Linked DNA regions of Homo sapiens: regions 1, 2, 3 and 4 are each reported to be linked to region 5. Evidence: microRNA targets listed by miRTarBase, many of them from high-throughput screens and not tested one by one. Region 5 holds a microRNA gene; each other region holds the end of a gene's coding sequence. Distances are between the middles of the regions.

Region 1 (6,436 bases), 60 Mb from region 5:
AACGGCAAGCGGGATTCTGTTCCATCCTAGATCATACCACATCTGGCCTCTGCTCAGAATCCTCCCGTGACTCCCATCTCATTCAGAGGAAAAAGTTCTCGCCACGGCCTCCCTGATCTGACCTCACCACCTTTCTGACCTCACCTGCCACCACATTCCCCTGACTCACTGTGTTCCACCCACAGTGGCTTCCTTGCTCTTCCTCAAATATGCCATGTAGAGTCCCACCTCAGGGCCTTTGCTCTGGCCGTTCCCCCTGCCTGGACTTCTCTTCCCCGAGATATCCGCATGACTCACTCTCTCACCTCCCTTAGGTCTGTGCTCAGATGACACTTCCTCCGTGAAGCCTCCCCTGTCCACCTCATCTAAAACTGCAGCATCTTCCCCACCCCTAGCACTTCCTATCTTCCTTCCCTCCTTTATGTTTATTCTTAGGAACTTGTCATCATCTGACATACTATACTTCACCCGTGTCTCTTCTTTGTTATCTAGAATGTCGGTTCCACAAGGGCCGGGATCTTTATCTGTGTAGTTCACAGCTGTATCCCCAATACCTAGAACAGTGCCTGGCACACAGATGCTTGATAAATATTTTTTCAGTGTATGAATGAATATGCACAAGCATCCCTACATGTTTATATTCACACATACTTGCCTCCTCACCTAAAATAAAAACCAAAGTCCTCATCGTGGCCCACAACCCTACACAATCTGGCCCCAAGGCATCTCTGCGACTTCACCTTCCACCACTGTCTCCCTTGCTCTCACCGTTCCTGCCTCACTCGTCTTCCTGCTGTTCCTCAAGCACACTAAACACATTCCTCATCATGAATAAAGAAATCTATTAAGTGAGTGGTACCAGCATTTTAAGAACACATGAAAGAGAATAAAAATGAATGGGGTACATTGCATACAGGTTCAGTACTGTTTTGTGAAACTTTTGGTTGAGCTGTGTGTGTGCGTGCATGTATGTGTAGCGGGTTGTGATGTAAAATGTATTTTTTTACTGTGGGTGGCAGTAAAAAAAAGTCTGAACACAACCTTAGAGCTTTGCAAAAGGGGAGAAGAGCTGCACCAACATCCCTGCCCCACAGATCCACCAGTGGAGGAAACAGGTAACCAAAGACATCCAAAGAAATGCAGCATCCTCACCTGACAAGGAGCGGGTAGGAGCAGGAGTGGCCCAGGGGCAGGGCCTGGCACCAGCCAGGGCATAATTGGGGAGGGCTCGTAGACACACTAACCCTACCCTTTCTGTTTCTTCCTCATCTTTCCTTTCCATCTGTTTCTCATGGTCTCCTGTCTGTCTCTCTCTCTCTCCCCTCTTTCTCTCTCCTCGCTCTTTCTCATCCCCTCCATTTCTGTGTCAATCTCAATCCATTTATATCGGTGGCCACTTTTCTATCTCTTTGTTCTATCTCTCTCTCTCTCTCTTTCCCACTTTGTCTCTGCACGCCTGTTGTGTTTTTCTGCCTGTCTCTCTCTTGCCCTCATCTCTCTGTCTCTCTCTTGCCCTCATCTCTCTGTCTCTCTGTGTCTGTGTCTCCCCCGCTCATTCCCATTTGCAGGTGCAATGTAGCAGGACAACTCATGGAGCCCCCCCGGGCCCATCGAGTACCGGACTGGCTGACCCCCTAGGGTTGGCAGTAGCCCCTGACCCTCAGTATGGCCAACACTACCGGAGAGCCTGAGGAGGTGAGCGGCGCTCTGTCCCCACCGTCCGCATCAGCTTATGTGAAGCTGGTACTGCTGGGACTGATTATGTGCGTGAGCCTGGCGGGTAACGCCATCTTGTCCCTGCTGGTGCTCAAGGAGCGTGCCCTGCACAAGGCTCCTTACTACTTCCTGCTGGACCTGTGCCTGGCCGATGGCATACGCTCTGCCGTCTGCTTCCCCTTTGTGCTGGCTTCTGTGCGCCACGGCTCTTCATGGACCTTCAGTGCACTCAGCTGCAAGATTGTGGCCTTTATGGCCGTGCTCTTTTGCTTCCATGCGGCCTTCATGCTGTTCTGCATCAGCGTCACCCGCTACATGGCCATCGCCCACCACCGCTTCTACGCCAAGCGCATGACACTCTGGACATGCGCGGCTGTCATCTGCATGGCCTGGACCCTGTCTGTGGCCATGGCCTTCCCACCTGTCTTTGACGTGGGCACCTACAAGTTTATTCGGGAGGAGGACCAGTGCATCTTTGAGCATCGCTACTTCAAGGCCAATGACACGCTGGGCTTCATGCTTATGTTGGCTGTGCTCATGGCAGCTACCCATGCTGTCTACGGCAAGCTGCTCCTCTTCGAGTATCGTCACCGCAAGATGAAGCCAGTGCAGATGGTGCCAGCCATCAGCCAGAACTGGACATTCCATGGTCCCGGGGCCACCGGCCAGGCTGCTGCCAACTGGATCGCCGGCTTTGGCCGTGGGCCCATGCCACCAACCCTGCTGGGTATCCGGCAGAATGGGCATGCAGCCAGCCGGCGGCTACTGGGCATGGACGAGGTCAAGGGTGAAAAGCAGCTGGGCCGCATGTTCTACGCGATCACACTGCTCTTTCTGCTCCTCTGGTCACCCTACATCGTGGCCTGCTACTGGCGAGTGTTTGTGAAAGCCTGTGCTGTGCCCCACCGCTACCTGGCCACTGCTGTTTGGATGAGCTTCGCCCAGGCTGCCGTCAACCCAATTGTCTGCTTCCTGCTCAACAAGGACCTCAAGAAGTGCCTGAGGACTCACGCCCCCTGCTGGGGCACAGGAGGTGCCCCGGCTCCCAGAGAACCCTACTGTGTCATGTGAAGCAGGCTGGTAGGCAGACAGGCAGAGAGAAGGTCATGGCCACCGTGATGGGGCCAACAGCAAGGGAGGGGTAGGGGCCCATACAGGAGTCCTCCTTTCTGAGCTCCAGCCCCAGCCCCTCGAACCACCTGTAATCTAGGCACCTTTGCCAACACCTCCCAAGGATGGAGGACTGGGCGAGGGACTGGGAAAGAGGCATATTTAGTTTTGTGGGGCCTGTCTCCGCTGCCTCCTTCTCCACTTCTACAATCTCATTCTCTCTCTCTCTCTCTCTGTCTCTCTCTCTCTCTCTCTCTCTCTCTCAGAAGTGACAATTCAGAAAAAGAAAAGAACACTGAGAATGCAGGTTTTTCTACTAACAGCTGAGGAGACAGGCTTTCTTACTTTAATGTCTCTCCTTCTGACACTGTCCAGAAGGGGGAATTTGTCCTGTAAAATAGACTTCCAGAGCTCTTTTGCCCCCTCTGCTCCCATGCACCCTCCCCTTCCAAGTCCTTTAGCAAGGCCTGGATGTTTAGGGAGAAAGTGGTCCAAGGCTGCTGACAAGAGGGACCAAAGGGGGTGCTGGGTTCCCAGGGAGCAGGGATGTTTAATTACTATGTCATGTGCAATGTTGTTTTAGGCCAACCCTTGCCCCAAGCCCAGTCTCTTCTCCCTCCCCACCATGTCCAGACCTCCCAAATGGTTCTTGTGCATCTGTTGGAGAAGTCAAGGGAGTAGGGAGAAGGGCCCCAAGGATGGGCCCAGGTTAGGTGAAGAGTAAGATGTGAGCTGAACTCCTCGAACTGAAGAGACCCACACTTGGTCACATTCTCTCACGCTGCCTTCAGGATCCCCAGCCCCCAACTCTTCTTCCTGAGGATGGAAATCCACTCCAGCCCCACTAGGACTGATGTGGGTGCCATACAGGCAGGAGCAGCCCACCAGGAAAGTGTAAGGAGGGAGCTGAACTCCCCAGAGTAGCTGGACCACAGAGACTTGGGTCAGAGCTGATTTCAACCCCAGAATTGTCTCTCGGGTTCACCCTACTCTTCTGAAGATGAAAATTTGTTTGGGGCCTTGGTAACCGATAGCGGTACAAACTCCAAGGCACTGTGGACTTGAGTCCATTCCTATCTGACCTCTTTTTGTCCCCCTCAAGCCTCAGGGGCCTCAAGCCCCTCCTTAGTAGCCCTTGGCTGACTGGGCCCTGAGCCCCAAGCATCCTTCTTTCCCAACAACCCTCCTTCCCCATCCTTCCCCCACCCTTACCTACACCCAAAGTGGAGCACACTGCAGTCAGATTCTCCAGGAGGGAGATCCAAGCCTCCTCCCAGGGGTGGAGTCCACTCTGGGCTTACTTTGAGGCCTGTTCTGTGGATTGGTGAGCCAAGCTGGCACTCCTTGCCCTGGTCTTACCCAGGCTCTCTGTCCCCCTCTCACTTCCTGTGGGGCCGGAATCTGTATTTATCCATCCCCCTTTCCCTTCTTTATAGAAGTCCCTGTCCTAAACTCCCTCCCTAGCCCAAGAGAGCCCCAGAACTGGGGAAGCCTGACCCATACAGAATGGGGAGGGCACTCTAGGCAGGAGAGACATTAATGAGCCTGGCTGCAGAGTGGCCCTGGAAAGGCAGGCCAGAGTGGCTGAGAGGCTGGGAGTAGGGGAGCCTGTTCTCTCAGCGATAGTGATGGGGGTGCCTTTCCGAGGGGGTGGGGTGGGAAGACCAAGGGGGTGGGGGGTAGATAGGGTACATTTAGGAGGGTTTTCCTCCATTTCTTTTTTCTAACTGCCTGGATTCACCATTGGATTTTGTAAATGGAAAAACTGAAATGAACAATGCTATACTGGATGTTTTCTCTTTCTGACTGTGTGTGTGTGTGTGCGTGCGTGCGTGCATGTGCCCTGTCTGACCACATGTGGAGAGACATGATTGAGTGATAGTGTGTGTCTGTGTGACTTTGTGTGGGGAGGCACTCCTGAAGAAAACTTGCCCGGTGCACACACGTAAAATGCCTGTATATGGGGACAGATACAGCACGTGCATGCATACACACACACACACACACACCACAGTTGAGAGGAGACAAACTAGAGTATGTGCCCGTGGTAGGAAGTCGAGTGGTCAAGAGATGGATCTTGGAAACTACATAGGTCGGTAGCAAGAGGGTAGACTCCCATCTCACAAGATGGGCCTCCCTTGGCCCAGGCCCTGAGCACGGGAGGGCTGGGGCCGCCAGGGAACTTGAAAACCTCATCTCCTCACAAAGCCTGTAGCCCCATCTCAACCCCGTCTCAGTCTCCTTCCCAAACTCAAACAAGGTGTTCCTAAAATTGGACCACCATGGAGAATGGGGACTGGGAATTGAGGATCAAATGTGAGGGAAACTGATGAGGTTAGGAAATGCCCCCCACAAAGTAATGGCTTCTGGAGGGACTGCTCAGTCTGGGATGGGAGCCCTTCCTAGGGGCCACTGTATGCAGCTGGGACTTTGGTCAGCTTTGACCAAATTTAGAGGGAGGGATGTCATGGGGAAAAAAAACCCAAGCCCAGGAGTCTACCCAGCCAGCCTGCTCCCTAGACAGTTAATTTACTATCTGGTTATTCTCTCAGGTGCACAGAATTGAGTTGACCATACTCCTCAGTTCTTGGCACACTATATCATCATTGGTCCATGTGAGGCCCTTTTATTTTTTTTTCTTCAGTTTTGTCCCCTTCATCACCCATTCCTGATCCCATCCTCCCCGCCCCCTACACAGGCACCCACTCTCGTGTATTTAACGTACGTCCTTCCAATCCACCGTTCATGTGTTTATTTACATATATGTGTATCTGTGAAAAATGTATGGTATTGCTGTGTGTTTTAATTTACATAAACAGTATTGTACTATAAATCTTGTTGTTTCTTTTTTCACTCAACATTCTGTCTTTGAGAGATCCAGCCATGTTGCCGTATATAGATCTAATTCATTCTAGTGGTCCATCTAAAACATATATCACATTTTTCTTATCCACTCCCCTGATGATGGATCCCTAGGTCTCCTCTCTGCTCCGCGACAAGGCTGCAATGGGCAGTTACCTACACCTCTCTTGAGGGATGCCTAATTTAGGGGAGAGAAAACTGAAGCTCAGAGAGGGGCAGTGATTTGGTTAAGGTTACAAAATGAGGGGCACACCCATGATGTGAATCCCAGCACCAAAGCCAGCCCTCCACCACCATGCCTCACAAAAGACCATCCATCTCTGGTTTAAAAAGAAAAATCTTAAAATACAGCATACACTGGGGAAAGGGAGAGGAAAGGATGGAAAGGGGGAGAAATGAAGAGACAGAAAGTGCTAGAAAATTCTAGCAGATGAGCTGAATCACAATCATTTTTATGACGCAGAGGAAGTTACTTTTTTGTGTGTGTGATTATTATTTGTAGAGCCATTTTGCGGAGATGGAAAACGCCACGTCAAAACCTGGCCCCCAAACCAAACACCCTGGGTGCCTAAATTGCAGGCGCAGGCGGTAGGGCAGCCCGAGCCCCCGAGGAGCTACAGCAGAGTTCACCCAGGGGGCAAACGTGGGGGGTGGGGGAAGGGGCAGAAGTGGAAGGTAGGAAAAGAGGCAGAAGCGGGGGGGCGGGGGGCAGGGGTTGTGTGAGGGAAGGGGCAGAAGTTGGGGGATA
Region 2 (3,000 bases), 9.3 Mb from region 5:
GAGGTCTAGGGTTTTAAATTATGTTTTAAAATTATCAATGATAAGAGGCTCTCTCAGGGTGGAAATATTAAGGAGAAGGAGCCATCTCTTCTTAGGTCTAGAAACTGAGTTTACCACAACCCCCTTACTTCCTTGTTTCTATTCTGGGGAAGTCTAAAACTTAACCAGAGGGATGGTGTCATTTGACTTTAATGCCTGTTAACTATGGGGATGGATAGATGGATGGATGGATGGATGGATGGATGGACAGATGGATGGATGGATGCACGATGTGTCAAACAGGTGCTGGTATTTTATCTTCCAGCACTGAGCTCCTCACACAGGTGACTGAACCCGTGGTTTTGGTGTCTGAGAAGATGCAGCTTCTCCAGTCTCTGCAACTGACGGCAGGAAGATGGGAGCACTCAGCTTCAGTGTTCAGAAGCAGATTTAGGCCAATTGCCATACCTTACGTTCTGGAGGGATCCACCCTGACCTGAGCAGGTGAGGTCACAGAAAGGCTTGCTGTCCATCACAGGGACAGGATTACAGCCTGCTCAGAAGCATGTTGTGGTCCAGCTCTTGTGTCACTTAAAAAGACTCCAGCTCTTCTCTAATATTGAATTCAACTAATATCACAGAGAGATGTTCTTAATCTTCTAGACAAACACACTGCCATCAGTATTCCCCAGAGGCCACAAACACACCCTGGAACCATAATGCCACCAGTAGCTCTAGGAGAACTTGCAGGCTAATGTGCCTGTTGCTCATTGTTTTTAGGCTACATATGAAAATGGACCAGTTTGCAATAAAAATATAATGCAATGATGATTATCAGAGCATTTTGTATACTAGGGAATTTTTTAAGTTATCTGAACATCAAATTAAATATAATGACAATGAAAGAATTTCCACCTGTCATATCATCAAAGTATAAAAAGAAACCATTCAGGATTCCAGTAAGGTGGGCATGCGGGGAAGCCTACCCTGTTTCATATTGGTGGTGGGGATGTCATTTAGTACAACCTCTTTCAAGGTTGATTTGGTAATTTCTATTAAAGACTCTATGCATCCCCGATCTGCATGTGTTTGGGGCCTGCTCCTTCAAGTATTCACCCTCAGCATGGCCCCTGTCCCTCTGAGAGTGCATATTCTTCCTGATACAGGAACTGTCTGCGGACTCGTTTCTAAAGCAATGGCCCAGACACACTCCCTTGTCTACAGAGTAGGAAATTTAGGTCTGACAAGGTTCTCTGTCTTTCATAAGAGAGACAGAACTGGCAGCCTGGCTTCAGAGCTGAAGATACAGATTTCAGTAGTGACCCAGGTCAGCAGGAAAGCAAGATTTGCTTGGTTATGTTGTGATGTGCAGCTCAGCATCACAGTCTGCCTGGGGGCATATAGGATGCTAGTCTCTGCTTTTCCACTTAGTGGCAGGATGCTCCCCAGCCAGGTTGCTTAACCTGCAAACATCCCTGTTTCTTAAGCTACAGGATGGTGTAGAGATTATATCCTCTACCTCCCAGGAATGTTGTGGGAAATTCATGAGATAGAAAAGTACCAGCGTTCAGGAAGGGTGAGTCCCCACAGCTCCGTGAGGCCAGAGATACTGCCCTTCTGCGGGACTTTGTTACAATCACCCTATGACAATGCACAAATAAATGGTCATTCAATTACAAAAGAGTACAAGGACTTATATTTACTCAGTTCATCCAATATCAATTATTATAATAATCAACAGTGTAAATTGGAAAGTAACTACGTGGAAACCACTTCTCCTTCTTTCCCATCTAAGGTCTCAGAAGTGCTTTCCCAGATGTGATCTCATTAACCTCTATATTGATCTGAGAGGTGTTAACCAAAACTGGCCAGCACAGGGGAAATGACTCACCTAAGGCCTTATAATGGGCCTGCCCCGCCATGTTCTATTGCATTGTTTTTCTGCAAAGCCTCATCTTGCGGGGTTACACTATACATATTTTTCCTCTCTTTTCGTTTTACCAAAGAGAAAAATATATACTTTTTTACTGTTAAGAAACATTTTCTCAAATAAGTACGTATTTCATTCCTTACTGAAATGGTTTTTTCTTATTGATCCATTGAAACCATATTGGCTATGTTCAACATAACTAGAGATATCTTTGGTGTTTTCCTCCCTTAGCTTCATATCTTGTAGAACATCTCGTACAAAAAAAGTAGATTTACAGAAAAACATACATATAAATCACGTATTAATCCCCAAATGTAGTAAATAACATAGCAAAAACTTTATCAAATCCATTTCATGCACAAGCTGGACAGATCTGTTATATACAATCTCTATATGCATCTGCAGTGTTTTATAAATTGGTGCTTTGACATTAAAAAGGAGGTTTACAAAAAGGCCCCTCTTGTACTATCGATGACTGAATTATCTCACTATCATTGCTTCTCAAATTTCCTTGAATTTATACTCATCATTGCCATATCACCATTCTAACAAAGGCGGTTATTTTAAGGAAAAAGTTGCAGCGTGATTATGATATAAGTAACATTCAAAATTTCACGTTATCAAGAGTTGAGCAAAGTACTAATTTCCCCTTTATAAACACACGTTTAAAACAAGAGCTTCATGCACATCCAAATAGAAATTCAAAGTCAAACTGTGTAATGTGTTTTTATTGACAGAAGGCATCACACACATTCCCAAGCAGCATGGTTCCCGTGAGAAACTGAAAACTAATTTCTTGAATCTACAATGCGACTTCCATCTTCCAGGTGTAACCAGAGTTTTTCCTGGAGCGATTCCAGCTTGTTTCCTTTTGGTGCCTTCCTTAAGAAATTTTGCAGCTGTTTCTGGTGCAGTTTTTGGGTGGGCTCTGGGGTGGGCAGACGATCTCCACTTTGCAGAGGCTGCTCTTGTGAGTGGAGCTGGTGGTGAGGGAGTAGGAGAGGCCTCGCATCATCCTGGCATTCAGGCCCTTAGCCATGGAGAAGGACTTGAGGTGGCTTCTTAAGGTACTGGGGAGCGGGAGCTTGTCC
Region 3 (6,436 bases), not on the chromosome of region 5:
GAACGTGCGGCGCCCCCGTGTGCGGCGGGGGACCTCCAACCCCATATCGCCAACTTAGAGCCCTTTCCCCACCACAGAGGCGTGAAACACCGACCCAAAGCCGCCTCCCGCCCACGGCGGCGCTCCAAGCGCTCACCTCCATGATGCAGTTCGCGGCCTCGGCTGCCGCCATCTTCACCCGCACCTACTCCTCCTCCGGCCGCCAAGACCCCCCCTTTCTCCTCACTCCCCCGGGACCGCCTTATACCAGAGGGTCCACGGCCCGCCTACCGCGACCCCGCTGGAAGATTTCATTGGCAATGGAGGCGGCCCGTCTGAGAATACCGTCTAGTAATTGGCTAGAGAATACGTCCATCATAGGTCAGGGGTTTGCCAACTCTGGCGTCCAGAATCCCGCCCCCTCAAGTCGACCCGGGATGGGGAAAACTGCCCGTCTATTGCAAGAAGCGCGACTGGTGATTGGGCAAAATCCACCAGGAATGCCCTCCCCTTTACACCCAGCACCGCCTCAAAGCTTCCCGGGGAGCCCCGCGCTAAAGGGGCGTCTTGAAACACCTGTCCATCACCAAAACGACCCGCCTCCTAATCGCTGCCATTGGTTTATCCGGAAGCGACGTCACGCAGCCTTTGGCCCACCCTCGCCAAGCGGCCGGCCTCAAGGAGAACACGGCAATTGGCCCACGGGTAGGGAAGAAGGCGGGGCTTCAGGCACCAACGATTGGCTCAAAGGAATTATCACTCCTCGTCCACTCGGTGGATCCTCCCAACCCGGGGGGAGTCTGGAGGAAAAAGGGAGCTTGTGCTCATTACCTGGGGGAAAAACGGAATCGGTGAGAGGCCCAGAGAGAGGAAGGGCATAGCTGGGGTCCCGAAGCAAGTGAGGAATAGGAGTCCGTCGTCAACACATTAAATCCCTAGCCCTTGACATAATCATTCCAAGTTTTTTAAAACCATCAACCCCTCTCAAGCCACTTGGTTTTTGCCAAGTCCCTCCCCCTGCCAGGAACGCCCACCTCTCTTTGTCTGGTCAGCTTCTAAACGTGAATCAGAGCACAGCTTAGGCACCACTTCCTCCGGGAAGCTTTCCTTGATTTGCAGAAAAAGTTCCTAGTTGAATGAAGCTGAATGCAAAGGGCCGAATGCGTGGGTCCTGCCCCTCCTCTCCCCGATCCCTCTACTTCCCTCTGCTCACACTTCTCTCCAATCCCGGAATGAGCTCGCTCTTTGGTTTCTGGGCCTCCGCGCAGGCTATACTCTCTGGCGTGCCGCTGGCAAACGCCTGAGACTTAAAATTTACAATAGGGTTCGGGCGCGATGGCTCACGGGTGTAATTCCAGCACTTTAGGAGGCGGAGGCAGGCGGATCACTTGACATCAGGAGTTCGAGACCAGTCTGGGCAACATGGTGAAACCCCCATTTCTATTAAAAATACAAAAATTACGCCAGGCGGCCGGGCGCGGTGGCTCACGCCTGTAATCCCAGCATTTTGGGAGACCGAGGCGGGCGGATCACAAGGTCAGGAGGTCGAGACCATCCTGGCTAACATGGTGAAACCCCCGTCTCTACTAAAAATACAAAAAATTAGCCGGGCGTGGAGGCTTAGGCAGGAGGATGGCGTGAACCCGGGAGGCGGAGCTTGCAGTGAGCTGAGATCGCGCCACTGCACTCCAGCCTGGGTGACAGAGCGAGACTCTTGTCTCAAAAAAAAAAAAAAAAAAAATTTGGCCGGGCGCGGTGACTCACGCCTGTAATCCCAGCATTTTGGAAGGCTGAGGTGGGCGGATCACAAGCTCAGGAGTTCGAGACCAGCCTAGCCAATATGGTGAAACCCCCGTCTCTACTAAAAAAACAAAAATTAGCCGGGTGTGGTGGTGGGCGCCTGTAGTCCCAGCTGCTCCAGAGGCTGAGGCAGGAGAATCACGTGAACCCGGGAGGCAGAGGTTGCAGTGAGCTGAGATGGTGCCACTGCACTCCAGCCTAGGCGACACAGCGAGACTCCATCTCAAAAAATAATAAAATAAATAAAAATAAAAATAAAAAAATTAGCCAGGACTGGTGGCACACGCCTGTAATCCCAGCTACTTGGGAGGCTGAGGCAGGAGAATCGCTTGAGCTCAGGAGGTGGAGGTTGCAGTGAGCCAGGATGAAGCCATTGCACTCCAGCTCGAGCGACAGACCGAGACTCTAACTTTAAAAAAAAAAAAAAAAATTGAAAAGCATGGCACTAAACAAACCAAGAAAAGGACATTTGTTTCCAGTGTTTGAGCTGAAGCAAGAGGAGCCCAGCTGCAAATATGCACATCAGGTCTTTAGCTTGTTGCAGCTCTGTGCATAAGCATTGCCCTCCAAAACACCACAAAAGCACTGCCTTAATTTTTGGGGTATGAATACATTGTAGCAAGGATGCAAATTTGCAAATAATCTACAAATACTGAGGATCAACTGTAATTGGTTCGGTTTGTAATCCTGTACATTTCACTTATTAATTTACAAACATTACTCTGTGAAGGGGGATATGGCCCTATAAAGGAGACAAACCGCCCAGGCACAGTGACTCATGCCTGTGATCCCAGGACTTTGGGATGCCAAGGTAGGAGGATCACTTGAGCCCAGGAGGTGGAGACCAGCCTGGGCAACATAAGGGAGACCCCATTTCTACAATTTTTTTTTTTTTGAGACGGAGTCTCGCTCTGTTGCCCAGGCTGGAGTGCAGTGGCGTGATCTCAACTCACTGCAACCTCTTGCCTCCCGGGTTCAAGCGAGTCTCGTGCCTCAGCCACCCAAGTAGCTGGGATTACAGGCACCCACCACCATGCCCGGCTAATTTTTGTATTTTTAGTAGAGATGGGGTTTCACCATGTTGGCCTGGCTGGTCTTGAACTCCTGACCTCAAGTGATCCACCTGCCTTGGCCTCCCATAAAAATTCTTTTTTAAAAATTAGCTAGGCGTCGTGTCGCATGCCTTTAGTTCCAGCTACTAGAGAGGCTGAAGTGGGAGGATCACTTGAGCCCAGGAGGTTGAGGCTGCAGTGAGCCATGATAGTGCCACTGTATCTATATAACAGTGCAAGTATAGGCAACAGAGCAAGACCCTATCTCCAAAAAAAAAGGGAGAGTGGGGGGTGTGTGTGAGACAAACCACTGGTCTGTAGGTAGATGAGAAACCAGCAAGAGAGACTTGAAAGGAGCAATGGGAGGAGAAAAACAAGAAGAGGGTGGTGTCCTAGACACAGGTGAAGTTAGACTGTACCTTTCTGTGGAATTCACTGGAAAGACTCCATGACCATCATACAGCATTAGCTAGAATAACCAGATCGTGCAATAGGAAAAAAAAATGCAAGTTGCTGGAATATTTACAGGTATTCTCTCAAATATGTTACATGTCCAGGAGACAGGCTCTTGTAGGTGCTGCAAATAAATATTTCTAGAATGAATGAACTGGTTCTTTCCTCAATTTGCGTAAGCCACAGAAATCTCTGAACCAAATCTCCTCTCCTTAAAACTTTAGTTCCCAAGTGTAAGAACAGACAATTGAATACTTTGTAACGTTTTTAATAAGAAAAGTTTTAAACAATTTATTTTTGGCAAAAACAGGTAGGGCAACCACCACCCCACAGCCCTGAGTGGAATAGGAAGACTTGGAAAAGCACACGAAGAGGGCAGGGACATGAGGTGTCATCTTGTAGCAGCTTCTGAGAAAGAGCTCAGTCCAATGGCAAGTTCAAGTCCACGGGTGAAACAGCCAGGATGCCCTCCTGGAAGGGAAAAGTGGCAGAGCCCTGTGAGCAGGGCAGGTGTTCCCCCCATACAGCAGCGTCCACATCAGCCCTGTGAGATTAGAGACGGGAAGGCGAGGAACCAGAGAGCGGAGGGTGACAGACACCCAGACAAGGGGACAGAGACCCAGACAGAAGGGCACAGGGATGAGGGGGCAGGGTCCTAGCAGGAGGAGGAAAGGTTGAGCTCGAGGAGGGTCAGGACACTGGAGTGGGATTAGACAGAGATCCAGAGAGAGTGAAGAGTTGGGGGACAGAGTCAGAGATGGGGAAGAGAGTCTTGGGATTTGAACAATTCAGAGTCGTGGCTTTGTGTACAAATCCAGATTCCAACACTCTGCATGCTGGGGACTTTTCCTCTCTGCCCCCACAAGACGAGGACAATAAGAGCCCCATGAGGTTGTAGTGGGTTTAAATGGGATCATTCCATTGAAATCCCTAGCAGAGGACCTGGCCCACCGAGAAAACTCATCTGCTATCAATCCTACTTTAAAAAAATTTTTTAAGAAATTGTCCAGGCGTGGTAGCTCAGCCTGTAATTCCAGCACTTTGGGAGGCCGAGGTGGGTGGATCACTTGAGGCCAAGAGTTCGAGACCAGCCTGGCCAACAGGGCAAAACCCCGTCTCTGCTAAAACTACAAAATTAGCCGGACATGGTGGTGTGCGCCTGTAACCCCAGCTACTCAGGAGGCTGAGGCAGGGAATCGCTTGAACCCAGGAGGTGGAGGTTGCAGTGAGCCAAGGTCGTGCCACTGCACTCCAGTCTGGGCAATAGAGTGAGACTCCATCTGAAAAATTAAAATAAAATAAAATAAACGAGCTTCTTTGCTGAGCCCAACACTTATATCCATTCCCCTCAACATGTGCTATGAGTTCTGATCTTACTGTAGACCGGACCACCTCCAGTCCTGCTCCCCACCCCCATCGCCCCCATCCCCACACCTTCCCCATCTCGGGGAACTTAAGATGTCGCCCTGCAGCTGCTCGGGCCAGCATCCTTTAGTCTGTCCCCACATCTGGCCCATTAGCCAAATCTGTCAGCTTCACCGCTAAGTTAAATCCAGCATTCTCCACCGCCCCCGACTTGGGTGAGATCCACTCACCTCCTCCCTGTGCCCCTACTTCTGCCCTCGCCCCCAGCAGTCTGTCCCCAGGCAGCCGCCAGAGGGCGCCCATTAGCGCCTAAATCAGCGCCTGTCCCTCCGCTGCTCAGAGACCTTGGCTTACCCAGAGTCAAAGTCCGAGTTGTCACTCACCGTGACCACAGGGTCCTGGCTGGCCCGGCGCCTCTCCTCCTCTCATCTGTCGCCCGCTCACCCTACTGTAGCCCTACTGGCCTCCTCCTCCCTGCTCCTCAAACACACTTGACCAGCTCCTGCCAGGGAAACCGGTTCCATCCAGAGCCTGGCTTGTGTCCCTCTCTCAGTGAATACCCACAGCGACCCCCCAAGGCAGGTAAATGAGACGGTGCTCACTGGACCAGTGGGGAGAGTGCCGCTCAGGGAGACTGCGACAGTCGCCAAGCCACAGGGCCAGCACGCTGGAGCCCAATCCAACTCTGAAACCGGCACTGGAGATAAAGTAAGAAAAGGAGAGGGGAAGACTTCTGGGTCTCCTGAAGCTGATGTGTTAGAGGTGGGAGACACCAACAAAGAAAAATAAACCAGAAGACAAGTAAAACAAGTCAATTCCACCATCTGTTGGAAGGCCCAAAGTGCTATGGAAGGAAAAGTAAAGCAGGAAGGGGGAAGGAGGGCGGTGGGAGGGTGTGCAGGTGGCTGTGATTGTCAATGGGGACCTGGGAAGGCCTCGTTGGGGGTGAAACCAGAGCCCACCAGAAGGAGCAGGACGGAGGCAGGGGGTTCCCCGGGAGGGCATCCTGGCAGGCACTGTTGGAAAGGCAGCAGGTAGCCATATAACCTCACCAACAAAATGCCTGCATGCCAGGCAGTGCACAGAGGGCTTACCACATTGACCCCATTTTAACCCTCAGAGCGACCCTTTGAGGTAGCACTACTACTCTCACTATTTTATTTTTTGAGACAGGGTCCCACTCTGTCACCCACACTGGAGTACAGTGGCGCAATCATAGCTCACCACAGCCTTGAACTCCTGGGCTCAAGTGATCCTCCCGGCTCCTCTGCCTCCTGAGTAGCTGGGAGTAAACGTGTGAGCTACCATGCTTTGCTAATTATTATTAATTTTAAAAATTTTTATTTATTTATTTTTTGAGACAGAGCCCCGCTCTTGTTGCCCAGGCTGGAGTGCAGTGGTGCAATCTCGGCTCACTACAACCTCTGCCTCCCAGGTTCAAGCAATTCTCTTGCCTCAGCCTCCCTAGCTGGGATTACAGGCATGCCGGGCTAATTTTGTATTTTTAGTAGAGACTGAATGTCACCATGGTCAGGCTGGTCTCAAACTCCTGACCTCAAGTGATCCACCCACCTCAGTCTCCCAAAGTGCTGGGATTACAGGTGTGAGCCACCGCACCAGGTTTTTATTATATTATTTTGTTGAGACACAGTCTCACTCTGTCGCCCAGGCTGGAGTGCAGTGGCATGATCTCAGCTCACTGCAATCTCTGCCTCCCAGGTTCAAGCGATTCTCATGCCTCAGTCTCCTCGGTAGCTGGGATTACAGGCACCTGCCACCGCGCCCGG
Region 4 (5,839 bases), not on the chromosome of region 5:
AGGGTGAATGCCCACAGGTGGCAGCTGAGTGACGCAGGGAGGGCCGGCCAGCCCTGCAGCAACTGAAGCATCCACTGGCACCTCAAGTGCTGGTCATAGGACCAGACACCACCACACCAGCTAGGCTCGGAGCACACAACTGGGTCCCTGAAACCCTCAGGAACTTGTTTCTGTCCTGCCTTCTGCCAGAGGGGCTGGAGCAGCCTCTACCCATGGCACCTCAAGTCTGCACCCTTTTATGAAGGGTCACTAATCAGTCACCCTTCCCTCTGCTGGTATAAACAGTCCCCCATCTGTGACATCACCTGGGCCTGACTGGCCCCACCCTTAGTTGCATGTTTGTCACAGGCTATCTGCTTTGTCTTCAGAGGCCCGGCTTCCCTGTACTTAAACCGTCCTTGGGGCTAGCAAGGAGCCAGTCTGGCTCCAAAGCCCAGAAACCCTTGTTTACTTGATGCCACCCAGTGCCGAGGGCCTGCAGGTGCCCACTCATCCGTCTGTGGCTGAGGGGTGCCAGCCTAGGCCTCAGCTATCAACATCCTCCCAACTGTTTCCCCCCTCCCCACCCCAAGTGAACTGCTCAGCTCCCACCTTGCTCAGGGAAGGGGGCATCACCCCAGAAACCCTTTTCCCTACAGGCCTGGCCCTCTTAGTAGGAGGGGGCAGCTACTGCCCAGCAGAGCAGGACTGGGCAGGGTTGGTCACCTTGCCCCGGCTGCCTTGCCACTCTGTCCCTGCTGGCATCACCCCCTCAGACACCAGGGGAGGATGGCCCAGGACTGCTGCCCCTGGAAAAGACAAGGAAGCACCCGAAGCTTTCGCACAGTTCAGACTTTTTAATGCAAGGAGAAAGTCTTCACTTCTCTTCCCACAGGTGTGAACAAGCCACTGCAACTTCAACAGTGACTTCCCGGCAAGGACAGCGCCCGCATCCATCCTCACCTAATACTGTATGGAGTGACGGGCTAAGGAGAACAAGGCCAGTTCCTGCAGACTCCGAGCAGCGCTGGGGAGAAGCTCCCTGAGACCCCCGCGGGAAAGCCTGGTGGGAAGCCCAGCTGTGTGGTACCTGGTGCTCCACCTGCCTTGGTGCCATCACAGCCCGGACAGTGGCCACTGGCCTGCAAACGCGCCCGGGCCCTGGAGGCTGGGCTCAATGGCCCCAGGCAGAGGAGGGGGAGGCGGCCTGAACTGGCCCGGGCCACTGGGCCGCAAGGTTCTGGTTTCTTATTGCTCAACCTGGGGGCCAGGGGCGTTGTAAGGACATCCAAGTGAGCTGCCCTCCTTTGCTAAACAGAGGAGGAAGGAAGGTAGGAAATGAAGGGGGATTACAGAAGGGGCTGGGTTTTCCCCTGGTCCCCGCTGTCTGGACATGAGAGCCTAGCCAGAACCACGGGCTTCCTCTTACCAGCACCAAGCTGTCGTGAGGCCCCGCCACCGCCACCCACCACCACCTCCCACTGTGGAGGGTGCGTCCCAAAGCTCCAGTTAAGTGAGAGGGTAGGGCAGGAGCTGGGATGACCACCCTTCCTCAGCCAGGAAATGCAACACTGGGGTCCAGGAACGGGGTGCTCCCCGGGTACCCACACCTAATGCCCCCTGGGCAGGGCTGCTCCTTGGCTGGAGGGTGGGAAGGGGAGACAAAAATCACAGCTTTTGAACAGTGGTTGGGAAGTTATTGGGAACTTTGGTCAAGTATGAAAGATATCACTTTACAGAACAGAAACTAGCTTATGTATTTTTCTGGAAGACATTCTCCTACTCCCCTGAACTCCCAAAAAAAGACCAAGGTGGCTGGGCCCTGCTTCTGTGACTGCTGAGCGGGGTTGCGCGTCGGAGCCGGTGGGGCGCGGGAGGAAAGGGCAGGGCCCGCGCACGGGGAGCCTGGGCCCGGGAGGGGAAGGCACAAGAACCCACTTCGCCCGAGAGCACGGGGGAGGCAGAGCCAGGTGAGGAAGGAAGCCACGGTCCCGTGAAGCAACCTCAGCTCAGAAGCACACGGAGGGTGCCTGGTGTTCCTGTCCATGCAGCCTCAGCCTAGCAGCTGCCAAAAGGGCGACCTGGCTCCCCCACGGTCGCAGTCGCTGCACTGTCCAGCTCCAGCCACAGCAAAGGCCGGGGGGCAGAGGCCGTGCACACAGGGCTGGCACACAGGGGAGGCGGCGACAAAGAACGCAGCCTCTAACGTTATATATTAAAATAGCCACAGTTCTTGTGCACACAATTCCATCCTCTCACCCCTGCCTCCCCCGCCAGGCCCAGGAACAGCCTTAAAAGAAAGATGGTGGTTTTCCTTTTCGAGAGGCGAGGAAACATCCGCTCAGTCTTTATGGACCTTGAGAAATGGTGAGGCTTCCCCTCCCCCCGTCTCTGCCTCCCGGCCGGGCGTGCAAATGGCAGGTGCGGGGCCGGGCGCCATCACTCATGTCTGCGCTTGGAGGGCGGCACCAGGTGCGGGGGCAGGTCGGCGGGCAGCTCGTGGCCCTCCAGCTTGACCTTGATGAGGTGGTTGGCCAGCGCGAACTCCTCGTCGTCCAGCAGCCCGTCCTTGTCCACGTCGGCCAGCTTCCAGATCTTCCCTAGCACGGTGTTGGGGAGCTTGGACTTCACCATCTCCTTCTTGGCGTTGGCGCCCGTGATCTTGCCGTTGACAGGGGACAGCGTGTAGAAGATCTCGTCGTAGGTGGGCTTGTCCTTGCCCACCACCCACTCCACGTCGTCGATGCCCTCGCCGGCCCCCTCGCCGTAGCCGTGCCCGAACGGCCCGTTCATGGTGCCGTCAAAGGCGCCGCCCTTGACCACCTGGGAAGGCATCAGGGACTCCTCCTGCCGCACCATCACCATCAGCCGCGCGATGTCGTTGGCCAGCATGTCATCCACCGTGTCCAGCAGCTTGGGCTTCAGCGCCTGGAACTTGCTGAAGTCCTGGGTCTGCAGGAGTTCCTGTGGGCGGGGGAGGAAGGACAAGGGCTGGGAAGGGAGGCCCCTCCCAGACTCCAGGCCAAGTGGTTCCAGTCAGGGCTTCACAAGCATAAAGTGCTGCTCCCCCACACTAGCAGGGGCGACTCGGCAAAACCATCTGGCCCTTGGCTCTCTAACCTGTACACAGGAGGCACCTCCAGCTCTTTCCTTGCAGGGCTGCGGCAAGGATTCATGGACAGGGCACCAGAGCGCCTGGCATGGCCCTGCCCTCCCCCCACCACGCAGGGTGAGTCACCACATTCCCCTCTGCAGTGTCACCGCCTGGGTCAACTCTGAGTTGGGTGGGGTGCTGGTGATTAACCCAGCTGCTTCCGTTCAGGGAGGCCCTTCCCCATGGAGATGGGATTCCCTCCAAATCCAGTGCCCTGGGCCTTCCTTCTGCCCTGATGGCCACCAGCCTGCATGGGGCCTCGGGACAGCCGTACCTGCATCTTGCGGAGGCTCGGGAAGTCCCCAGGGGAGATCTGGTGCTCGCGCTCAATCTTCTGGTAGATCTCTCCGAGGTTGTTCACCAGCTCTTTCTTTTTGCTCTCTTTACCAAAGACATTGGGCATCTCTTTCTTGAGGGAGCTGATGATGTAGGCGTGAACCTGTGAGGACGGGGTGAGCATCAGGCGCTCTCTTGGCCCAGGCTGCCCCCGAGAGCAGAGCCTCCAAGGACACTCCAAGGATACTCCAAGGTGCTCGCTCAGGAACAGGGAAGCAGGAGGGATGGGTCAAGCTCAAGGCCGCTACCACCACCGGCTCCCACAGTCCTAGGAGCAGACACAATCTGGCAAGAGCCACAGCTGTCCACTGCCACAGGACAGAGGACAGGACAGGAAAACGCACTTGAAACAGAAGACAACAGCCTTGGCCTTGCACGGATCATTGTGATGATTCAGGAAGAGTAAAACCCAGTCTGTCAACCCAAAGAAGGCAATTTGTCGTGTACCACTGGGCACATCACACACCCTCTGTTCAACCCTCACCACGCATCACACACCCTCCGCTCAACCCTCACCACGCATCACACACCCTCCGCTCAACCCTCACCACGCATCACACACCCTCCGCTCAACCCTCACCACGCATCACACACCCTCCGCTCAACCCTCACCACGCATCACACACCCTCCGCTCAACCCTCACCACACACCCTCCGTTCAACCCTCACCACAGCCCTGCGGGGTGGGATTCTCCCAACCCGGCCCTAAGCAAGGCTGGGAAAGGCTGCCTGGGGTGCTTGGCTCCCACATGGAGGAGCTGGGATTGGAACCCCGGGCTGCTGAAGGTGCCCCACAGCCCATGTTCTTCTGTTTCTCTGCAAGCCCCCTTCCCCCGAGCTGCCCCCTCCCACGCAGCAGAGCAGGGAGCAGGCTTCCTGCAGGGCCCACCAGCCTGCACGTCCAAATCCCTGCTGAGTGCCGATGGAGCCCACAGAACTCCAATGGGCCCGTGCCACGCTCCACTCCATCATCACAGCTCGGATGACGAAGGATTTGAAAAATCCCAAAAAGGCTTCTCCTGGTGGTTGCCAGCTTTATCCAAGCATCAATACCTTGCTTAGGCATGTGCCTGTTCAGGGCGGCACCCCCTTCATTTCCCTGCAGCAAGCTGGGAACCTGGCAGCCCTCGAGAGTAGCCCAGCCCTCAGATCCCTCGGCCTTGCCAAGTCGTGTCCAGCCACAGAGGGCTGCGGCCAGCCAGCCTTGCTGCCCTTCTCCCCGGCTCCAGCCCATCCACCACCCCGCTCAGCCTGAGCCTGTGCCCTGGGTGGGGGCCTGGCTGAGAACTGCCTGAGGGAGGCAGCCCCGTGCCATGTGGGTCTGGATCTAGAGTCTCCCCAGGGACACTGTGGCAGGCAGATCCCAGGCCGGTGGGAGTCATCACAGAGAGCACCACTCACTCCAGGAAAAGGAAGTGGCAGGTGTGAGGCAACACTGGAGGCCACAGGGTTTTCCAGGCGCGGTGACTCAGTGTGCCTGGGGCCTGGCAGTCACACATGGTCTCACAGACGACCAGGCAGGGGCTCATGCCTGCCCCTTGTCCTGTCTGTCCTCAAAGGTGGCTGAGCAAGGGAGCTCTCTCTGCCCTGCAAGGAGAGAAACTCAGCTAGGGCCACACCCACACCCCTCAGCTCAGGACGTCCTTTGTCCTTTGAGGCCAGGGTCAGTCACCTGGGTTTTTGTATGGGTTCCTCTCTCAAAGCTGGCTCCACTCACAGGGAGGCTCCAGAAGGGAGAGATCTAGAAAAACATCCAGCCAGCCGGGCGCGGTGGCTCACGCCTGTAATCCCAGCATTTTGGGAGGCCGAGGCAGGCGGATCACCTAAAGTCAGGAGTTCGAGACCAGCCTGATCAACATGGTGAAACCCCGTCTCTACTAAAATATAAAAATTAGCTGGGTGTGGTGACGGGCGCCTGCAATCCCAGCTACTCAGGAGGCTGAGGCAGGAGAATGGCTTGAGCCTGGGAAGCGGAGGTTGCAGTGAGCCGAGATTGCGCCACTGCACTCCAGCCTAGGTAACAGAGTGAAACTCCATCTCCAAAAAAATCAAAAAATAAAATAATAAAATTAAAAATAAGAAAAACACGCAGCCCTCTGTCCTCCAGAGCCGGCATCTGACCCACGCCCGTGCACACAGCTCACGGAGGTTCAGGCCAGAATGAGAATTCCTCATCTACAGGGTGAGGTGGGGCCCAGGGTACTTGGGGCACAATGGGAGGACAGTGGTGGCAAAGGATGAAGGGTCAGTTCTCACTGCTCAGACCAGGTAGCACCCACATGCCCTCTGACTGGCCTCCAGACAGAGTGGGTACGAGGGCCACTGTGCTCAACGCCTGCAGTCTCCATGCCTCTGAGCAGGCAGGGACAT
Region 5 (6,436 bases):
ATGCAACTCTCCATCAAGGCCTCTGATGGTCTAATTCCCTAAGAGAGAGGAAGTTGCGCATCACTCAGTTAATGTACTCTCCCAGCATCTGAAAGCAATATATTAATTATCCAAATGCATAAATTACTCCAGAGCATATATATGAATGTATGAACCTCCAGGAGGGAACCAAAAGAATCCATTTCCAAAGCACCACTGAAATGAAGACAAACACAATTCCCTGGGGCAGGGTAGCTGGGAAACTGGAAGAAAAAATTAGCTCCAGTACCCTTCTGCACCCCAAAACTCCCTACCTTTTTTCCAGCTTACATAGCTCCTGAAACTATTCCCTTTTGTAAGCCTGAGGTGAGTGCTTTCTCCAGCTGCTGCACAGGATAGTAACTATACAAAACAGCACACACTCAATTCTCTCTAGCTTCCCACTTCCAAACTACGTGTTATACACTGTCTTCCACACATACTGTGCTCTTCAATAAAAAATGATCTAGAATATGGAAAATTTAAACAAATTTAAGCACATTGAAAACGTCGATGTATAGCCACCTGTTAACAGTCCCAGTATTCGTATAAATTCAAACAATAAGCTTTAGAGCACATTCTGATTAATCTGTCTTTAGAGGTACTCCCTAAGCATACCAAAATAGACTGGTGTTCACATGGTATTACTCAAGTAGTACATTGTTCCAATAAAAAGTCCTGTTAAAAAACATCCCCTCCCCACAACCCTTGTCCTCACCCTCAAAACAAGAACCAATAAAAGGGGGAAAATGATTAAAAGCATTTTTGCTGATAATCTGCAGCTCTTGATTTGGCCGTTTAGATGAGATATTCCACCATCTCTGCATCAGGCTCTTGTCCCAGGATCTGAATGGGAGTTTTTCTTTCCAGAGTATTGGAGTGGAACACAGGCCCATCTAAATGGAAATAAGGGTTAGAAAACACTTAGGGATGAAGAAAAAACCCATATTTCTAGAACCAGACACCATCAGAGCCCTCATGAAGCCAATGGCAAAGTGAGACTTGCCTGCCACCTCCCTCATTTACTTCTGCTAAGATAATGGCCTCTACTCATGCCTGTTCCCATCTTGGTGGATGAGAAGTCATTTACAGACTCTCTTCTCTCTCCTTTAGAACGTGAAAAACTCAGTCCAAATGATAACTCTGCCCAGACATCAGACAACAAGAAATAAATCTGTATTTGAGAGCAGAACTAAACCAAAACCTACCTGCTAAAGGGAATAATTACCTGTTTTGTCTGGATTGCAGGTCAAACTTGGTATAGACAAACGATGTGGTCCAGGACCGGTAGCTGGACTTGCAGGAACCTCAGCCTGAGCCACAGCTGGAGTTGGAGTTGGAGCTGGAGTTGGAGCCACAGCCGGAGCTGAAGTTGGTGCCTGAGTCTGAGCAGGAGCAGAAGCCTGAGCCGCTGCTGGAGCTGGAACCGGAACCAGAGCCGGAGCTGGAACTGGAGCCGGAGCAGCTGGAGCAACCTGAACAGCAGCAGCAGCAGCAGCAGAAGGAGCAACGGCAGCAGCTGAGGCAACAGAGGCAGCAGCTGGAATCTGACCAGCAGCAGCTGGAGAAACAGCAGCAGCAGTAGCAGCGGCAGTGGCTGGAGACGGGGCAGCAGCAGCAGCTGGAGCAGCAGCAGCAGCAACAGCAACTGGAGCAGCAGCTACCATGGTGGTGGTGATGGTGGCAGCAGTGGCAGTGATGGCGGCAGCAGTGGCGGCAGCAGCAACTGGAGCAGGAACAGAGATGGGAGCAACAGCTGCAGTTTTGTTCGATTCCGTCCCACGTTCAGTTTGGGTACTGCAGTCTCGGCTGCCTGTCTTGGAGTGAGCCGAGAGCAGGGGAGTCGAGGGTGGCACAGGCGAGGGTGTGGAAGGGACATATTCAGCACGGTAGTCTCCACCCAGGAGAATGCCTACAAATGAAAGAGGAACAGATGTTAGAAAACAATAGGTGATTCAAATCCAGACATCTAATTACCTGTTCTCCCATTCAAATTTCAGAAGAAATTTATTTATTTTTAAATAAGTAAATATTATTTAAATATTTAAAATATTATTATTTTTAAATATTAAATAATTTAGAATAGTCTAAGTTATTTATTTTTGCCTCCAGGGAACCCAGAAATCAGTGTGTGAGGCTCCTCCAACCATGGCTAAAAGTTTCCTACAGACTTCGAGGATCCCTTCTGGTCCTCATCCATCACCTGGCACAACATATTAAGCCTGTAAGTGACCTGGGTATCTGTTTTGATTTATTTTTCCAATGGTGATTGGGTTCCACCAAGTTGTCAGAATGCTCCTACTCGGCTCCACTTATAAACCATTACCACACGTTACCAGGGAGCAAGAAAGGATCTGGGGAAGAAGTCTGTTGACACAGATTGAGTGTGGTAATAATTGTGTGATCTGAGGTTCTCACCATGACCATAGTCCCCAAAATGCTTATTCTAACCAAAAGATATTACAAGTATCAGAGGACCAAGAAAGGAATTAACAGCAACAAAAAGGGTTAAAATAAAAATATATATAAGCTTCCTTCCTCGGGCTCTAAAAATGTGCCTCGTGGTATCCACAATATGTCTGGGGTTTTGATTAGAGGGGAGGGAATGGACAGGAACGGAATGAAAAAGTACATTCTGTTCTCATCTCACAACACTGTGGGAACAAAACCTGCTACCCAAACGATTTAGTGTAACTAAAACTCTGGGTTCTCCTATTATAGAGGAGGAAGGAACACAGAAATGCCGGAATTTTGACATTTGGAACGACACAAAGGCCACATGGGCTTTGGAGAAAGATAAAGGTGCCACATGGCAAAGGCCAAATCTGAGAATAGTTTAGAGGAAATTAGAGTTATCTTCCTTGACACCCAAATGAAACTCAAGATTCTTGTCCTCTAAGCCTTGGCCTCAATCGGTATTCTCACCGGGAGACTTCAAAGTGTGGAGGAGCTCCAGAATGTGGAACTAGGGTCTCAGGAGGAAAAAAAAACTCCAAAACCCTGGTACACCTTCCTCTCTAGAACCTGGACCATCATCCCTTTTCCTTAAGCATGGGTGCTTATCTCAGGGCTCTCTTTGAACACGTGACTATAATCTTCCTTATTTACTGTCATTACCTAGGCTCCCCTTCCAGCTCTTGTCGTCTCGCTTTTCTTCCATGATGGGGGAGCCAGTCAGGGTGGATGAGTGGGAGAGCAAGCCTGATCCAGCATTGGAAATGGACATCAGAGACTTCGCTGGCCGCATGCACGACAGCTGCTCTGTCTTGCTCGGCTCCTTCCGGGAACGCTGCTGGAGTACTTTGATCATGGCATCCTTCTCAATAATCTGGGCATGGAGGGTCTTAATCCTAGGAGCCAAAGGCAAAGAACATATAAAGACCTTGTTGTGGGCTGGGCGCGGTGGCTTACGCCTGTAATCCCAGCATTTTGGGAGGCCGAGGTGGGCGGATTGCAAAGTCAGGAGTTCGAGACCAGCCTGGCCAACATGGTGAAACCCTGTCTCTACTAAAAACACAAAAATTAGCTGGGTGTGGTGGCAGGCGCCTATAGTCCCAGCTACTCGGGAGGCCGAGGCAGGAGAATCACTTTAACTTGGGAGGCGGAGGTTGCAGTGAGCCAAGATAGTGCCACTGCACTCCAGCCTGGGTGACAGAGCAAGACTGACTCCATCTCAAAAAAAAAAAAAAAAAAAAAAAAACCTTCTTGCTACCTCCACATTTTGGTCTAATTGACTACATGACTACGTGGAGCTCCCATTATCTTTTCGACTAAAGGCTGATCTAGTTAGTTCTGAGTTGGAAAACAAGGGATGGTGTGCTACAGTTTTTAAAACATGTTTTTTCTTTTTTCTGCACACCCAAATGGATACAGCAGAGCATCCAGGAGCTGTTGCTTAAATCTTAGTAAGTCACAATAAAGTACCAGTGAAAAAAAAGGCTGAATATGAGAGAATGAACTGATGTACTAGGTGCTGTAGTGAAGAATCTCAGTCAATGGAAACAATTTACTCAGTGAGAAGATGAGATCTATGAATGAGCGACAACCTGCAGGTAGTAAGTAAATGATCATGTGTTTATAAAAGGAATCAGGTATCCTACCTCCACTTTGAGTAGATGTTCTTTTTGTTGTTGTTGTTGAGACGGACTCTAGCTCTGTCGCTCAGGCTGGAGTGCAATGGCATGATCTTGACTCATTGCAACCTCTGCCTCCCAAGCTCAAGCAATTCTCCTGCCTCGGCCTCCTGAGTAGCTGGGACTACAGGTGCCCGCCACCACACCTGGCTAATTTTTGTATTTTTAGTAGAGACAGGGTTTCACCATATTGGCCAGGCTGGTCTTGAACTCCTGACCTCAGGTGATCCGCCCGCCTTGGCCTTCCAAAGTGCTGGGATTACAGGTGTGAGCCATTGTGCCCGGCCGAGCAGATGTTCTTTTACTCTTTTATTAAGCAATCTGCTGTATCACAGGGTTGTGGTGCAGTGCTAGAAAGAATACTCCAGAGTGCAAATGCCAACAATTCAGCTCAGGCAGAGGGAAGAGGAAAAGCAATTAGGAAGGCCAAAGGGACAGAAACCCTACCTGGAATTCCATGTTTAGTGGAGATTATCAAGGTAAAGGTCATTGCATCTCACACCTTTAAGTGACAGGCTGGCAGGGGTGATGGTGGAGCGGGGAGGCTGCATGATCAGATTTCCTAGCTGTGAATAAAGATCCTATGTGGTCTCTATATCAATGTCTCAGATTCCTCAGGGTCCAGAACAACATTTTACCTGCCCTCCATGTCAAGGCAACGCTTATTGGCCATCAAGATTTCTTCCTCCTCTTTCTGGATGCGAGCTTCTAGAGCTGTGTCATAGCTGGTGTTAGGAGAGTGACTGATGACTGTTGTGTCCCTGGGGAGGAAAATGGAAGTGATGAGATGGGAGCATAGCAAGATCAATGAATGTTATCTTTCTTCTAAGTCAAGGAAGGCTTTTCTGGAAAGTCCTAAGCTGAAATCAAGCACATTTGGAACAGATGGTTTCTGGGGAACTAACCCGTAAGAGCCTCCAAAATAGGACAGTTCAGCGTTCAGGGTAGAAGGCAACGTTATTAGTATAGAAGTGGCTGCAAAAGTCAGTGAGGGATGAGATATGCACAGACTTGCCTTCAGAACTGAACAGATATCATCCCAAAACCTTCTGGCAGATAGCCCCTTCAAGTTTTTAGATCATGGCCAAGCAACAGGAATATGTATATATTGGGCCAGGCATGGTGGCTCATGCCTGTAATCCTAACGCTTTGGAAGGCTGAGGCAGGTGGATCATCTGAGGTCAGGAGTTTGAGACCAGCCTGGCCAACATGGAGAAACCCTGTCTCTACTAAAAATACAAAAATTAGCCAGGCATGGTGGTGCACGCCTGTAATCCCCGCTATCTGGGAGGTTGAGGCAGGAGAATCACTTGAACCCGGGAGGTGAAGGTTGTTGTGAGGTGAGATCGAGCCACTACACTCCAGCCTAGGCAACAGAGGGAGACTCTGTCTCAAAAAAAAAAAAAAAAGGAATATGTATATATTTCCATTTTATTCTCCTAGAAGTCATAGAGGGGGAAAGGTCAGACTTTCAAGAAAGTCAGAGGGTATACTAAGTAACTTATGGCTACAGATGAACATTGGTAAATACACCTGAGTACTAGAAGCAAACAACAGACACATCAGCTAAGATTAGGTAGGGCATGTGAGCTAATAAATAGTGCCTTTGAGTCAGTCCCACTCGATTCCTATCTAATCTACATCTGAAACATTCTAGCACCAAATCAATGGGTCTACCCCAACAAAGTGACTGTTCTCTTGCCAGAGTTCTAACTGCATAAAGGACCATCATGTTCCATTTGAAAGTGTCTCAGGCCATTAACTCAAAGACCAATTAATAAGGAAAAACATGTGTGTGTGTGTGTGTGTGTGTGTGTGTGGTGGGCGGGTGAGGGAGGTTATTAGGATTAGGGAGAATACTGATGCAATTATATTGGTCTTCAAGGAAATCAGACAATAGACCGAGAAAACAATGAACTGGCACTGCTTCATTATACTTCCTAAGAGAATGGGGATCTGCAAGAGAACTCCAGGCATGTTTTCTGTTGGGAGCTAACTATGTTCTCTTAGCTTCAAGATTATGTCTAGTGCAGATGGGGATGAAGCGGCAAGAAAAAGAGGCAGAAAGTTGCTATTAAGATTGGGGATTTTGGTGAGCCTCTATAAAATTACTGTTCCCCAAAATATACGTGTACCTTATATGCAAGGTTGAAACCATTTATGGAATGATGAAATAATTGGAGAACAAGAAGGGGAAAGAATACAATGGCTTTCATCATTTGCCAAACTCAAAATATTTTACCATCTCAGCATTCTATACTTTCTCTAGTGCAATTCACTGGCTT

Evidence for each region. Region 5 holds the annotated microRNA hsa-miR-4329 (CCUGAGACCCUAGUUCCAC, at 2,978-2,996, opposite strand). A microRNA usually pairs through its seed, bases 2 to 8, with sites in the 3' UTR of a target mRNA and lowers its output. Matches are read on the target gene's strand: a 7mer-m8 pairs with bases 2 to 8, a 7mer-A1 pairs with bases 2 to 7 and ends in A, and an 8mer does both.
Region 1: the mRNA of GPR173 is a reported target of hsa-miR-4329. Seed matches in the 3' UTR shown: 7mer-A1 at 3,087-3,093 and 7mer-m8 at 5,057-5,063.
Region 2: miRTarBase lists RAB40A as a target of hsa-miR-4329. The part of its 3' UTR that is shown has no 7-base or 8-base seed match.
Region 3: miRTarBase lists BCL2L12 as a target of hsa-miR-4329. Seed matches in the 3' UTR shown: 7mer-A1 at 3,692-3,698.
Region 4: miRTarBase lists EHD1 as a target of hsa-miR-4329. Seed matches in the 3' UTR shown: 7mer-m8 at 1,022-1,028.

What each region holds. Positions count from the first base shown.
Region 1 is chrX:53,074,957-53,081,392 of GRCh38, forward strand. It overlaps GPR173 (G protein-coupled receptor 173), which reads left to right. Exons shown (of 2, transcript NM_018969.6): 2 at 1,569-5,659. The coding sequence starts at 1,666. The coding sequence ends at 2,787. Among named protein-coding and RNA genes, the nearest start is that of TSPYL2, 4.2 kb to the right of the region's middle. RefSeq lists an enhancer at 2,634-2,693.
Region 2 is chrX:103,497,131-103,500,130 of GRCh38, forward strand. RAB40A (RAB40A, member RAS oncogene family) reads right to left here. Exons shown (of 3, transcript NM_080879.3): 3 at 2,000-3,000. The coding sequence ends at 2,793. All of the region lies in intron 5 of LL0XNC01-250H12.3 (a long non-coding RNA gene), which reads left to right. Among named protein-coding and RNA genes, the nearest start is that of RAB40A, 21 kb to the right of the region's middle.
Region 3 is chr19:49,671,017-49,677,452 of GRCh38, reverse strand. BCL2L12 (BCL2 like 12) reads right to left here. Exons shown (of 7, transcript NM_138639.2): 7 at 3,537-3,755. The coding sequence ends at 3,705. PRMT1 (protein arginine methyltransferase 1) reads right to left here and starts at 182. Exons shown (of 11, transcript NM_001536.6): 1 at 137-182. The coding sequence starts at 172. RefSeq lists enhancers at 1-543, 548-697, 5,108-5,297, 4,791-5,349.
Region 4 is chr11:64,851,915-64,857,753 of GRCh38, forward strand. It overlaps EHD1 (EH domain containing 1), which reads right to left. Exons shown (of 5, transcript NM_006795.4): 4 at 3,408-3,572; 5 at 1-2,943. The coding sequence ends at 2,419. Among named protein-coding and RNA genes, the nearest start is that of CDC42BPG, 10 kb to the left of the region's middle. RefSeq lists enhancers at 1-100, 1,418-2,416, 2,417-3,415, 2,663-3,862, 3,104-3,163 and a silencer at 1,761-1,820.
Region 5 is chrX:112,777,751-112,784,186 of GRCh38, forward strand. MIR4329 (microRNA 4329) reads right to left here and starts at 3,038; the gene lies at 2,968-3,038. It overlaps AMOT (angiomotin), which reads right to left. Exons shown (of 14, transcript NM_001113490.2): 11 at 4,790-4,912; 12 at 3,136-3,368; 13 at 1,247-1,930; 14 at 1-914. The coding sequence ends at 817. RefSeq lists an enhancer at 1,643-2,143.